Regions from separate parts of the Homo sapiens genome. Here region 1 is linked to region 2. The links come from fine-mapping of genetic effects on gene expression. A gene starts in region 2. The other region holds a variant in brackets. All regions are shown on one strand. Distances are between the middles of the regions.

Evidence for each region. PIP is the estimated chance that this variant, and not a neighbour inherited with it, causes the effect.
Region 1: its variant is fine-mapped to the expression of TBC1D17 in monocytes (Quach 2016, PIP 0.95).

What each region holds. Positions count from the first base shown.
Region 1 is chr19:49,896,405-49,899,156 of GRCh38, reverse strand. It overlaps IL4I1 (interleukin 4 induced 1), which reads left to right and starts at 2,270. Exons shown (of 8, transcript NM_152899.2): 1 at 2,270-2,322. RefSeq lists an enhancer at 1,161-1,340. The variant C/T (reference allele first, on the strand shown) is at 956.
Region 2 is chr19:49,876,346-49,879,353 of GRCh38, reverse strand. TBC1D17 (TBC1 domain family member 17) reads right to left here and starts at 1,652. Exons shown (of 17, transcript NM_024682.3): 1 at 1,610-1,652; 2 at 1,113-1,211; 3 at 782-856. The coding sequence starts at 1,630. It overlaps AKT1S1 (AKT1 substrate 1), which reads left to right and starts at 1,999. Exons shown (of 5, transcript NM_001098633.4): 1 at 1,999-2,117. RefSeq lists a silencer at 1,166-1,455 and enhancers at 499-1,458, 1,676-2,015, 2,196-2,835, 2,419-3,008.

The DNA.
Region 1 (2,752 bases), 20 kb before region 2:
AGGGGCCGGGGACCTGGGGCCCACCCGACCTGGTGAGGAATGCCAGCACTGCCATTCCCCACTGTGGGACCCAGGTCGAGGCACAGGCGAATAAGGCCCCAATCCCGCCGCGTTCATACTTGACATGTCGCTGTGAATGAAACTCTGAGACCTAGGCCAAGCCTTTTCCCCTCTCTGTGCCCCAGGGTCCTCCTGTCCCACCCTCTCGCCATCTCCAAGCCTCAGTTTCCTCAACTATCAAATGCAGGCATTGTTGTTGGTTTTTTGTTTGTTTGTTTGTTTGTTTTTGAGACGGAGTCTCACTCTGTCCCCCAGGCTGGAGTGCAGCGGTGCAATCTCGGCTCACTGCAACCTCTGCCTCCCGGGTTCAAGCGATTCTCCTGCCTCAGTGTCCCGAGTAGTTGGGATTACAGGTGTGCACCACCACGCCTGGCTAATTTTTTATATTTTTGGTAGAGACAGGGTTTCATCATTTTGGCCAGGTTGGTCTTGAACTCCTGACCTCAAGTGATCCGCCCACCTCAGCCTCCCAAAGTGCTGGGATTACAGGCGTAAGCCACTGTGCCTGGCCTCAAATGCAGGCATTGTGAGGCTTACGATGGGTGCAAAGCCCTGAGCACCAGGCGGCCTCCAAGGCAGGTGATCGCCATGGGAACATTTTTGTCACTATTTTTTTCTTTTTTAGAGAAAGGGTTTCGCCATCTTGGCCAGGCTGGTCTCGAGCCCCTGGGCTCAAGCAATCCTCCCACCTCGGCCTCCCAAAGTGCTAGGATTACAGCAGTGAGCCTCCGCACCCGGCCCTCATTACTATTTTTTATTTTTATTTTTTATTTTTTGAGATGGAGTCTGGCTCTGTCACCCAGGCTAGAGTGCAGTGGCACGATCTCAGCTCACTGCAACCTCCACCTCTTGGGTTCAAGCAATTCTCCTGTCCCAGCCTCCTGAGTAGTTGGGA[C/T]TACAGGCGTATGCCACCATGCCCGGCTAATTTTTATATTTTTAGTAGAGACGAGGTTTTGCCATGTTGGCCAGGCTGGTCTTGAACTCCTGACATCAGGTGATCCGCCTGCCTCGACCTCCCAAAGTGCTGGGATTATAGGCGTGAGCCACCCCTGGCCCTCGTCACTATTTTTGCTGACCCAAGCTCTTTCGGTCCCTGAACTCTCCAGCTCTTTGATCATTTCCCTTTGCCACGGCCTCCCGCCCCTGCGTCACATGCCTTGTTACTCACATTCACCCCCCAGCCCCTCCCGGCCATAACCGCATCCCTCTTTGATTTACTGCGGGAGTTTCCCATCTTCCTTCTTGTTAATGCCCTCCAACCCCCACCCAACCCTTGCTGCAGAGAATCTGCCTCCCTCTGGTTTTCCTCCTCACGGAGCCCCTGGCTCCCTCTCCCCCACCCCAAGGAAAGTCCCTGCTATTGTTTCTCCACCCCCACCCACTCCAAGGTGCCGCCCCACTCCCTGCCCTGAGCACTGAGGTGGTTCTTAAAGCAGGGATGGGTGAAGCCTGGGCGCTTCCCTCTGCCGGGTGGTCACTCATAGAACCCCTGAGTGCCCCTGCGGCCACAGCAGCTGGCATTTCCAAAGGAGCAGCTTCCAGTACTACCCCAGGTTCCGGCCACAGAACTTAACCTGGATTCACTCACTTGATCCTAAAACACTGTGACGTCTGTAGACGTCATTTGACAGCTGTAGACGAGAGCCACAGAGGGGAGGGCGGGCTCAGAGCCCACGTCCTGACCCCGGGACCACGGCTGCCAGCCCCACTGCTACACCCATGTAACGGAGGGGGAGACTGAGGCTCTGGGTGGCAAGTGGAGAGGGAAGTGGAACCATGGGGGGCCCTGCAGGACATGGCGACACCTGACGGAGAGGGACTTGGAGGGGAAAGTTGGCCTGGCCCAGGGACCTGTAGCCCCTCTGTCCCCGTGGGAATCAAGGAGGCAGAGAGAGTGCAGGGGAGGATAGAAACAAGTGGCCTGGTGATCAGGGACGGGGGCAAACCGAAGGGGATTCCCCGTTGTTGGCACGGTTACCTGAGCATCTATTTCTGGCCTCCAAACCACCCCAGAACTATCTGGGGCAAAAGGAAGTGAATAGACTGATTAACTTCCTCCAACCCCCTTTCTCCAACCTCAACTAGACTCTGAGCATTGGACCAGAGCAGCTCCAGGAAACCAGTTTCATTTCCCTCGGCCAGTTTCCCAAAAGGAGGGGTGGGCGGGGCTCTGCCAGTTTAAGGGGAGAGAAAGGGCCACAGCAGAGACAGTGGAGGGCAGTGGAGAGGACCGCGCTGTCCTGCTGTCACCAAGAGCTGGAGGTAGTGACACGGCCAGTGGTGGGGGGACAGAGAGACAGGACCCACAGAAATAGGGACTGAGAAGCAGTCAGGAGCTGGGGAGATGAGGAAGAGGGAAAAGAGGCCGGGCGCGGGGGCTCATGCCTGGAATCCCAGCACTTTGGGAGGCCGAGGTGGGTGGATCACCTAAGGTCAGGAGTTCGAGACCAGCCTGGCCAACATGGCGAAACCCCGTCTCTACTAAAAATACAAAAATTAGCCAGGTTTGGTTATGGGTGTCTGTAATCCCAGTTACTTGGGAGGCTGAAGTGGGAGGATTCTTGAACCTGGGAGGCGGAGGTTGCAGTGAGCCAAGATCTTACCACTGCACTCCAGCCTGGATGGCAGAGAAAGACTGTTAAAAAAAAAAGAAAGAAAGGAAAGAAAGAGGGAAAAGAAGAGAAAGAGACAG
Region 2 (3,008 bases):
AGCTCTGTGGGTGCCGACTGACTTCCGGCCCCTGGGTGGAACTCATCAGCTCCAATGGAGGTCTCATTCCCCACTAAAGAACCCCCCTACAGAGGCATCCAACTTCTCCGTGTGCCTTGAAGGTTGTTCTGCTGTCCCTGAAATACCTTCTTGTCCTTTCATATCCTGGGAGTCCCAGCTCAAATGTCTGCTCTCCCAGGAAGCGTTGGGGATCTGGAATCAGACTGTCTGGGTGCAAAAAGTTCCAACACTTCCTAGCGTTTTCGACCTCATCTATCAGTTTCTCAAAAAGTGAGTAAGGGTCAGGGCTTAGGTGGGTCTGGATCTGACTTATCTCTGGGTCTCAGAATTGCCCAGGACGGGGTCCAGCCATGGGAAGTCCCAGGAGACATAACGAAGGGAAAGCCGGGAGCAGTGACGAAGTGGGTGAGTAGGCTGTCAGGCCCTGTCCTCTGGCACCAGAGGAAATGCCATTTCCCTTCAAGCAACTCGAATCCACATCTTGCACCCTGGCAGGGATCTCCCAAGAAGCAAAGGGAGAGAGGGGTCAGCCGTCCCCACGACCGTGCGTCTTATGCTCCCTGCTCTTTTTCCTTGAATGGGCATCCTCTGCCCATTTCACAGAGAGGAGCAAAAGGAGAGGCAGAGTACCCAAGCCTAAACAGGGTCACACATGCCCCACGAGTAGGTCTGGGATTGTACGCAGGTCCCTCAAATGACTTACAACAGCACGGACCTAGAAAAAAAGCGAGTGGAGAAGGGCAAAGCGGGTGGAGCCTACCTTCTTGGAGAAGAGGATTTGGGTGGAATCTCCAGCCTCCTCTACAGGAGCCCAGTGCAGGAGGACGTCATTGTCCTAGGGTAAGGAGGGAGGCGGGGTTAGAGGCGCTCCCCAAACCACATTCCCAAAACTTTCCGTTGCAAATTTCCAAACTTTCCCAGTTTCTACCCTCAGCCTTTCAAAGTCCCGCCCCTCATTCCAGTTCCCACACCCAGCCTTCTTCAGGTCCCACTGCTGACCGCCAGACCAAACTCCTACAGCTGCCGCCTGCATCCCAGACCGCCTGCATCCCGCTCGGAGCGGGTCCGAGCCCTGCTCCCTCCCAGCGCACCTTTTCCACGACACGGATGACACCAGCGATGAGAGAGTCTCGGTCCTGATACTTCTTAGCGCTGGTGTGCAGGTACACTCCGCCCTTCTCAAACACCACCTGAGTTGGGGGGAACCAGCGAGGGCTGGGGCCCAAGCGAGGGGACCAGCCTGGGGAGCCAATAGGGACGGGCCCAGGGAGGAGCCACCCTCAGGGGGCGGGGCCGGGAGGGCCATTGCCCCGGGACCAAGGCGGGGAGAATGGTCCAGCCCGCGTTCGGATGCTGACGTGCGTTCCACAGGGGGCAGGGCTCAAGGAGTCGCCTGAGCCGGGGGGGCGGGGCCATGGGAGGTTCTTCCCTGGGGCGGTGGACGGGAGGGTGACGGCGCGTTTATAAGAGATCGGTGTTTGCCAAGGCCGTGCCGGATTCTCGAGAGCCAAGGCCTGAGAGAAGAGCTGATCACTAGACGGGGCGTTTCGCATACACTGAAGCGAGGGAATGCGTCCTCAGTGCTTACCCTGTAGCCGGCTCCTTCCATAGTCGCCGCCGAAGGCCCCACTGCCCCGCCTCCTCCTTTTCCTAGTCAGCGTGTTGTCACTTCCGGAGAAAACAGTTCCCCTCCGGGCCGGACAGTGGTAGCGGCCCGACCCGTTCTAGAGAAGGAGCGGGTGAAACCATTTTTCAGAAGGGGGTTATTCCACTGGAACCTCGAGGGTGGATCGGAGTCACGTGGCGCAGACGCTGAAGGTGGATCCGGCTACGGAGAGTGCGCAGGCGCAGTGTTCGCCCTCTCGCCACGAAGTAAACAAGTGGGAGGGTCTGAGAGCTGCACCACCTGGGGCAAGCACGCCTTGAAACGCCCACTTCCTTCTCCATATTGTATACTGGAATTGAAGCCAAGGAGGTACCATTTTGCTCGAGGGCATGGCCTAAGCCGGTCAGCTAAGGCCATGTTAATACGGGGCTGTCCCATCTCTCTGCGGGGCGCGACAGCTGGAAGAGCCGAACGGATAAGAGAAGAGGAGGTGAGAGGAGCTGTACACCACAAGAGGCACTGAGGGACTCAGGATAACGGGATGAAGCCGTCAGTGCCCCCAGAAACGAAGCGGCCCCGGACGAATTTCTGAGTCACCGTCGCGAGAAAGCGGGCTGAGCCGCCATTTTGAAGCCTGGCAAACCGAAGCAAGAAATGCTGCCGTGTTGGATCTTTGCCAGCCTTCGTGCCGAATGGGAGCAGGTTGGAGGGAGGGAGAGCCAATATACACTATGGGCTGATTAAGCCCGGTTGGCTGCCATGTTGTTAACGAGCACCGATTTCCTCTACTTTTGTCGAAGAAGTTTATTGTGGGTCAGGGACGTCAGGTCGCTTGCCTTCGTTTACTGTGGTCATGATTGAGCATATGAGGACGGCCATTATTGTTGGGGGCAAATGGAAATGCTCTAGGCGGGGCCATTTTTCTTAGGGGCAAGCTGTCGTCACCCTTGTCAACTGGTTCGGATGAAGCCCCTGTGGCCGCCATCTTGATCTCGGGCGGCCCCGATAAGGGAGGCGGAGTGTGCGGAGAGGAGGCGGGGCAACTGCGCGGACGTGACGCAAGGCGCCGCCATGTCTTTTGAGGGCGGTGACGGCGCCGGGCCGGCCATGCTGGCTACGGGCACGTGAGTGGAGGCGGCGTTGTTAACCGCGGTGTGGGGAGGATTTGGCCGTCCTGAGGCAGCGGGGCGCTGGGAGGGCGAGCGGCTCACGGGAGGGGTATGGCCTGCACAGATCAGAGGGCAGAGGTCTGCCAGCGATCCTTTGCTGAGCGCTGGAAGGGGGTCGCCCGTGGGAATCGTCCTGTCAGACCTGAGGCAAATCGTAGACAGTCTCACCTTGCGGTTCCAGAGCGCCTGGGATCTCTACCTGGGCCGTGGAC